Linked DNA regions of Homo sapiens. The protein of the gene in region 2 purifies or fractionates together with the protein of the main gene of each other region. This does not show direct contact. Each region holds a gene or a part of one and is shown on either strand. Other genes may lie near its edges.

The links.
Region 1: the proteins of CPNE8 (region 2) and MPI purify together in Homo sapiens (affinity purification with mass spectrometry; one large-scale study listed by BioGRID and IntAct). This does not show direct contact.

What each region holds. Positions count from the first base shown.
Region 1 is NC_000015.10:74,892,823-74,896,646, reverse strand, and holds part of MPI (mannose-6-phosphate isomerase), read right to left. Parts: intron 3,510-3,824; coding exon 3,327-3,509; intron 496-3,326; coding exon 322-495; intron 1-321. UniProt on the Homo sapiens protein: Isomerase that catalyzes the interconversion of fructose-6-P and mannose-6-P and has a critical role in the supply of D-mannose derivatives required for many eukaryotic glycosylation reactions.
Region 2 is NC_000012.12:38,651,473-38,654,741, forward strand, and holds the end of CPNE8 (copine-8), read right to left. Parts: intron 2,599-3,269; coding exon 2,410-2,598; 3' UTR 731-2,409; downstream 1-730. UniProt on the Homo sapiens protein: Probable calcium-dependent phospholipid-binding protein that may play a role in calcium-mediated intracellular processes.

The DNA.
Region 1 (3,824 bases), on a different chromosome or scaffold from region 2:
GACATACAAAGGCTGTGACAGAACAACAGCTTTGATCCAATATAGCCTGCGTTCAAATTGTGGTTCCCACACTGACTGGCAGGACTTAAAATCAGAGTAGCATGGCATCACAGGGTTGGTGTCAGGATTCAAGGCGTGTTCAATGCTAAATGCATTCATCATCCCTACCAGCTGTTGCTTGCTGAGCCCAGGAACCCTCAGAGGTCAGAGCTGCAAGGTCCTTGGGGGTCTCCTTGACCACCCTTCTCCTTCCTTTGTCCAGATAGGGAAACAGGGCCCAGCAGGGATGGCAGTGGGGCTCACTGCTGAAATGTGGCTCACCTCCTTTCAGGTAGGCATGGGGTACGTTGGCCTCCAGAAACATGGCCTCCCCAGGCTTCAGGGTAAGCAGGTTCAGGAAGTAGATGGCAAAGCAGCCGATATCACCTGGGTACTGCTGGTGCAGCTGTAGCAAAAGCTCCCCAAAGATGTCCTCCATGTTGTTTCCGGCAGCCGCTGAGGGTCACAGAGCACCCCAAGGTCACTTAGGGGGATACTCAGTGCTGTTCATAGCCCCACATTGGCCAGGGAGTCCTAGGAAAAGGTCCCTGCCACAGGAATCCAGAAGCCAAAGTGGCCCTGTCCTTCTGGCCACGCCTCCAGCCCTTTGGGGGTCGAGCCTTGCTTGATACTCCAGTCCATACAAATACCATCTTTCATCATATCTTGACTATTCATATGCCCAGGACTATACTAGCCACTAAAAGAGCTAGAGTATGGTCCTTTCAGGATGGGATTTCTCAGCCTTGGCGCTACTGACATTTGGGCTAGGTAATTCTTTATTGTGGGGGCTGTCCTGTGTACTGATGGATGTGTAGCAGCTTCCCTGGCCTCCACCCACAAGATGCCACTAGCAACCCCTATCTGGGTTTTGACAATCAAAAAATGGCTCCAGACAACAGCCAAATGTCCCCTGTATGAGAACCACTGCCCTTGGAGCTCAAAATCTAGGGAGATAACGCAAAAGAGTTTCATGAAGGGTAACCAACATGCCCGAGCTTTCCCTTTTTTTTTTTTGAGACGGGGTCTCGCTGTCACCCAGGCTGGAGTGCAGTGGCACGATCATACCTCACTGCAGCCTCAACTGTCCAGGACCAAGCAATCCTCCTACCTCAGCCTCCTGAGTAGCGAGAACCACACGTGCATGCCACCATGCCCGGCTAAGTTTTTTATTATTTGCAGAGAGAGGGGGTCGCTATATTGCCCAGGCTGGTCTCGAACTCCTGAACTCAAGGGATCCTCCCACCTAGGCCTCCCAAAGTGCTGGGAATACAGGTGTGAGCCACCGCACCCGGCGACTTTCTAGTTTTTAGCACTGAAAGTTCTGTGTCTCAGCTGGGCGCGGTGGCTCACACCTGTCATCTCAGGACTTTGGGAGGCCAAGGCAGGCGGATCACGAGGTCAGGAGTTCGAGACCAGTTTGACCAACATGGTGAAACCCCATCTCTACTAAAAATACAAAAAAAAAAAAAAAAAAAGCCAGGTGTGGTGGCACGTGCCTGTAATCCCAGCTACTCGGGAGGCTGAGACAGGAGAATCGCTTGAACCCGGGAGGCGGAGGTTGCAGTGATCGAGATTGCACCACTGCACTCCAGCCTGGGTGACACAGCGAGACTCCGTCTCAAAAAAAAAAAAGAAAGTTCTATGTCTCAGAGAATCTCTCTCGGTCTGCTCCAGAGAGCATGAGGCAGAATGCGCTGAGGGCCAAAATGTGTCCTGGAAACGACAAGGGAAAATGAGCTCAGCCTGGGTAGAGTGGCAAGGGTGGACTTCTTTAATTTTTAAATTTTTTTTCTTTTTCTTTTTCTTTTTTTTTTTTCCGAATCGGAGTCTTGCTCTGTCTCCCAGGCTGAAGTGCAGTGGTGCAATCTAGACTCACTGCAACCTCCACCTCCTGGGTTCAAGTGATTCTTGCGCCTCAGCCTCCTGAGTAGCTGGGATTACAGGCACACACCACCATGCCCAGCATTTTTTTTTTTTTTTTGAGACAGAGTCTCACTCTATTGCCCCGGCTGAAGTGCAGTGGCATGATCTAGGCTCACCACAACCTCTGCCTCGCCTGGCTAATTTTTGTATCTTTAGTAGAGATGGGGTTCCACCATGTTGGCCAGGCTGGTCTTGAATTCCTGACCTCAAGTGATACGGCCGCCTCAACCTCCCAAAGTGTTAGGATTACAGGTGTGAGCCACCGTGCCCAGCCAGGCTTCTTTAAAGTGAGGCAAGGGGCCTGGCGTGGTGGCTCACACCTGTAATCCTAGCACTTTGGGAGGCTGAGGCAGGTGAATTGCCTGAGCTCAGGAGTTCGAGACCCGCCTAGGCAACATGGTGAAACTCCGTCTCTACTAAAATATAAAAACTTAACCAGATGTGGTGGCACATGCCTGTAATCCCAGCTACTCAGGAGGCTGAAGCAGGAGAATTGCTTGAACCCGGGAGGCAGAGGCTGCAGTGAGCCAAGATCGCACCACTGCACTCCAGCCTGGGGCAACAGAAAGAGACCACACACACACACACACACACACACACACACACACACACACACACACACACACACACACACACACACACTGAACAGAAAAAAATATGCTTGGGTCAAATAAATAATGCCCTAAGGCTCAAAGGTAATGGGAAACCTGTAGAGGTAAAATAAAAAGAGAGCTCTGGGCCACCTAGAGAAGGGGTTGTGGCTGCCAGGCTAAGAAGCTGAGACCTCATCGCCTGCACCACATAAGCTCATTGCTGGGAGTCTGTTCTGTTTTGGGTTTCTTACTGCTTGTGTTGACTCCCCACCTTTAGGGTGACAGTGACCACACCCATCACAGTCATTTCCTGAACTCTTCTTAGCACAAGGTTGGGCACACAGAAGGTAAAGGAAAGATCAAATGACTGAGTGCTGGAGGCATCAGTCCTTTCCAGGAGAGGGAGGATGCTCGTGTCCCCTTCCTGCCTCTTTAGCCCCGAGATACAAGTCCATCCATGGAGGGCAGCTGCAGGGCTAGGGAAAATCTCAGAATGCCTAGGTGGAAGGCATCCTAAGAGTCCTCTATGCCAGTCTGCCTCCAACCATCTGGAGAAGATGACCAGTTGGGAAGCAGCACTCAACTAAGAAGGGCCCTGCTCCACAAAGACTAGGCAAGCAATGCTAAGTTGCCAACAGGTCATCTAAGTGGGGCCCCTTTTAGTGTTCCACTTGGGCAAGGGGGTTGAGAACTGTCCCCAGAGTCTGGTGTCTGCTGGGAAGCCCAGGCCAGAGCATTGCACCCAACCAGGAATATAACTGTGTCCACCTTGCTGGGAGATCCGCTTCACCAACAGGTTGAGCTGTTCCACCACCACCTTCTTCTCACTCTTCATCAGGTGGGAGAAACAGCTCTGCAGAGAGGAGGCCACAGCCTGGGAGTCATGGCTCATGGTCTGCTTCAGGTGTGTTGCTGCCTCATCTCCAATCAGGAACTGAAACTCAGGCACCTCTACAGGAAGGCAAGGCCCAGGGCCCATATCAGGAATGGTAAGATGGAACCCACACAAGTGGGGAGTTGGAGGACACCTTTCCATCCCAGCCCTAACCAAAGAGCCGGCAATGCTAAGTAAACTTTGCAGTGGAAACCAATCACTCACCACCAGCCCTTGACTACCACACCTGAGCCTGGTCTCACTGGCCTGGCTCACTGGCTCCAAAAACTGCTTCATGAGGCCCTTCAGTTCCTGTGACATGTGACCCGTTCTCAGCCACTGTTCCTATCATCTTGGTTCCCCAGGTATCCCTGGCCCAGTACGCATGCCTT
Region 2 (3,269 bases):
TTTGAGAAGCAATAGGAATTGGTATTACATAACTGGGCAAATTCAGATGATGGAGATACTTGAAAATAACACCAAGAGTTCATCCTGGAGTTCAAATGATAATTAGAGGCTTTCATTGGAGAGGAAGGAAATGAGATTACAAAGATAGGACAGTGCCCAAAGTCTCTGGGGTTCTTGAGGGCACCACTTGAAGACTGACTTCTGCAGCAGGTTTAATGACTTGAATCTATCACCCCTTCTCAATATATACCTTTCTTGTTGCTCATTACCGTAAGTGTAAATATCCCTGATAACCAGTTTGTATGTACAACTATTACTATGTGTTTTCCTTTATGAAGCATGTCTCTGGGATTTCCTATTGCATAGCACCTAATAGCAACTAACAAAATGTAAGTTATAACAAATATTTCCAAGATGGTAATGAGCTCTTCTCTAGTTATATAGTCTTGGATACATCACTTAATCCCTCCAATCTTGGTTTACTACATTTTTGCAATGAATACACAAGATTTACGTATTTTCTAATCTTACATGTAGCATTAACTTCACATAAGTTTCTGATTATCATTCTCAGCCATATAAATGATAACATTTGTAAAGAGAAATTGCTTCATTCCTGGCCATTTACTCCCACTAGGTTTGAGCAATCTATTATTTATACAAGGAATTGTACAACTTTTGTTTTCTCTGGACAGTTCAAAAAAATAACTGATGTTTGACAAGAAGAAAAGAATATTGATCTTATTTATTTGTTTTTTGGGTTGATAAATAAAGCTAAATTTAAAAATCTGTAGGTAATACACTGTAGTGGCATAAATATTTAAGATCAGTAAAGGAAATCATCAAACTATTGTCATTCATACATGAAACGTACAAAGCAAATAGTTATGATTTAAAGATTTTAATACATAATTAAAAATCAACAATTATTACATAGTTATATAACATTGATACTGTTAGATATGTGGATGTATATATTTTTCTTTCCAGTAAAATAGTTTCATGCTTATAAAAGTCACCCTAGGTCAACTTGGGACAAAGAAAACAATGTACAGTAGAAATAAACCAAGTATTAAATAGAATATATAGGTAAGGAAAAAATATTATAAAGCAGTTACATTTTTGACACACACACACACACAAATAAATACACTTTTCTATTATTTGAAGGCAATTCACAATCATTTCCAGGAATTCCGTGAGAATTTAAGGCCATTTGTTCTAAAGAAATGCTTTAATTTAGACACAACTTCACAAAACTGTAATTCTTGTAAAAACTGTACATGCAAAAACCCTTTACAATTATTCGTGGACAGGCAGGTCAGTATATAGGAGTAGGTTATTTCACAAATGTGTTGTGCACTAAGTCACATAGTTGTATATATTTAACTGGGAATTTCACAAAAGACTTCCAGCCTGTGCACCTTGTGTGGCAACGTGGAATGGTGATAACAAGAAATTCCGATCAAGAGAGCCAGTATCCCTTTGAATTAAAATATCTAGACAAGATATAATGGAATAAAAAGTTTAAAACATCTGCTACATAGTTCACAGTTAAATAGTCTTGGTTTCAGTCTTTCTAAATAGCATTATTATATAAGGATGCTACTTTTTACAAAGTATTTTCTGTGCATTTATAGATCACAATGTTTGACTTTTTATAATTTCTACTTAGTGTTACAAAATACAAACCAACTGCAGTCTAAATTTAGAACCCAAACTCCATGAAAAATGCATGTTCAACCAGGAGACACATCTGCCGGGCTTAAACTCCCATACCCAGCAAACATTGCTGAGAAATTGTTTATTAAGCAGATGTAGTTTCTTAAGACAATCCAGTTACTGAAAAATAGAAAAGCATTTTTCCCTTCCCTTATTTGCAATTGTGTTTGTCCAGACAGTCATTCAAAGAGATATTGCTCTTGTGATTATAGCTATTGCAATTTAGAAGACAAAGGATTCAGTATTTAAAACTCTTATTTTTAAGAACAGTTATAAAAGTATTGAAATTTAAAAAGTAGTAACATGTAAACATTGATACAGAGACTGCTTTCCTATACACATAGCAGTCGAAGACAATATTTGAGTTAAAAACACAGTTTGTGCTTTTTCCCAACAATACATTGGAAATTAGCTGTTTCTGTTAAAAAAAAAAAGAAAGAAAGATTTAGAGAAGACATCCATACTTTGCTTCAAGCATTTAAACAATTTTTTCTGTTGCTCATGCAACAACCATATTTACAGTTTTGGTTTAGGAAGATATTTAAATTTGGATCCAAGAAAGCACATTAACTGCTGAAACCAAACTGAGAAAACTATCTCATTGCCTGGTTCATTACAGAGCACCAGGCACAAAGCATTAACTCAGCACTTTTGATTTGTAGTTGACATTAGCATTTCAGAGCACAGTCATATTTGAGTCTGTAACACATGTGTAGGTGGGGTGTATGGGGGAGGCGCAGGTGATGGCTTGATTCCTCGGGCTCTCATATAGGAGAGAAACTGCTCAGGGATCTCAGCTAGGACATCTTTAGCCAATCTAGCCATGCTCAGTATGTGGTTTCCACTTCTGTCAATATAATCCCTGAATGGCACAAACTAAAACAGAGACGAAAGAAAGTTATTTCACAGACTTTAGCAGGCTATGTAATAAACACAAAAAATCAACACATGTACACATTTGGTCATAGGAAAATCAGGGAATCTGAGAGTAATGGAGAGATGGATAACAATTATTATACATTTTTAAAAATATTCAATAGGCCAGGCATGGTGGCTCATGCCTGTAATCCCAGCACTTTGGGAGGCTGAGGTGGGTGGATTACCTGAGGTCAGGAGTTCAAGACCAGCCTGACCAACATGGTGAAACTGTGTCACTACTGAAAATACAAAATTAGCTGGGTGCGGTGGCACACCCTTGTAATCCCAGCTACTCGGGAGGCTGAGGCAGGAGAATTGCTTGAGCCCAGGAGGCAGAGGTTGCAGTGAGCCGAGATCATGCCACTGCACTCCAGCCTGGCCGACAGAGCGAGACTCTGTCTCAAAAAAAAAAAAAAAAAAAAATTCAATACACTACAAATAGCTATAAGTGACTAAACTTACATAATATATGCTTTATCTCAAAAGGAATGCAATCATTTTCTATGTTTTTCCTCCAATAACTCATGTCACTTAATCCTAATAGGCTTATTATGTTGCCAAATGTCTTCTGCAGTTTTAGGTTCTATACCCAGCCTGAATCCCAACAGGATGGAGCATTTAACCTCTTT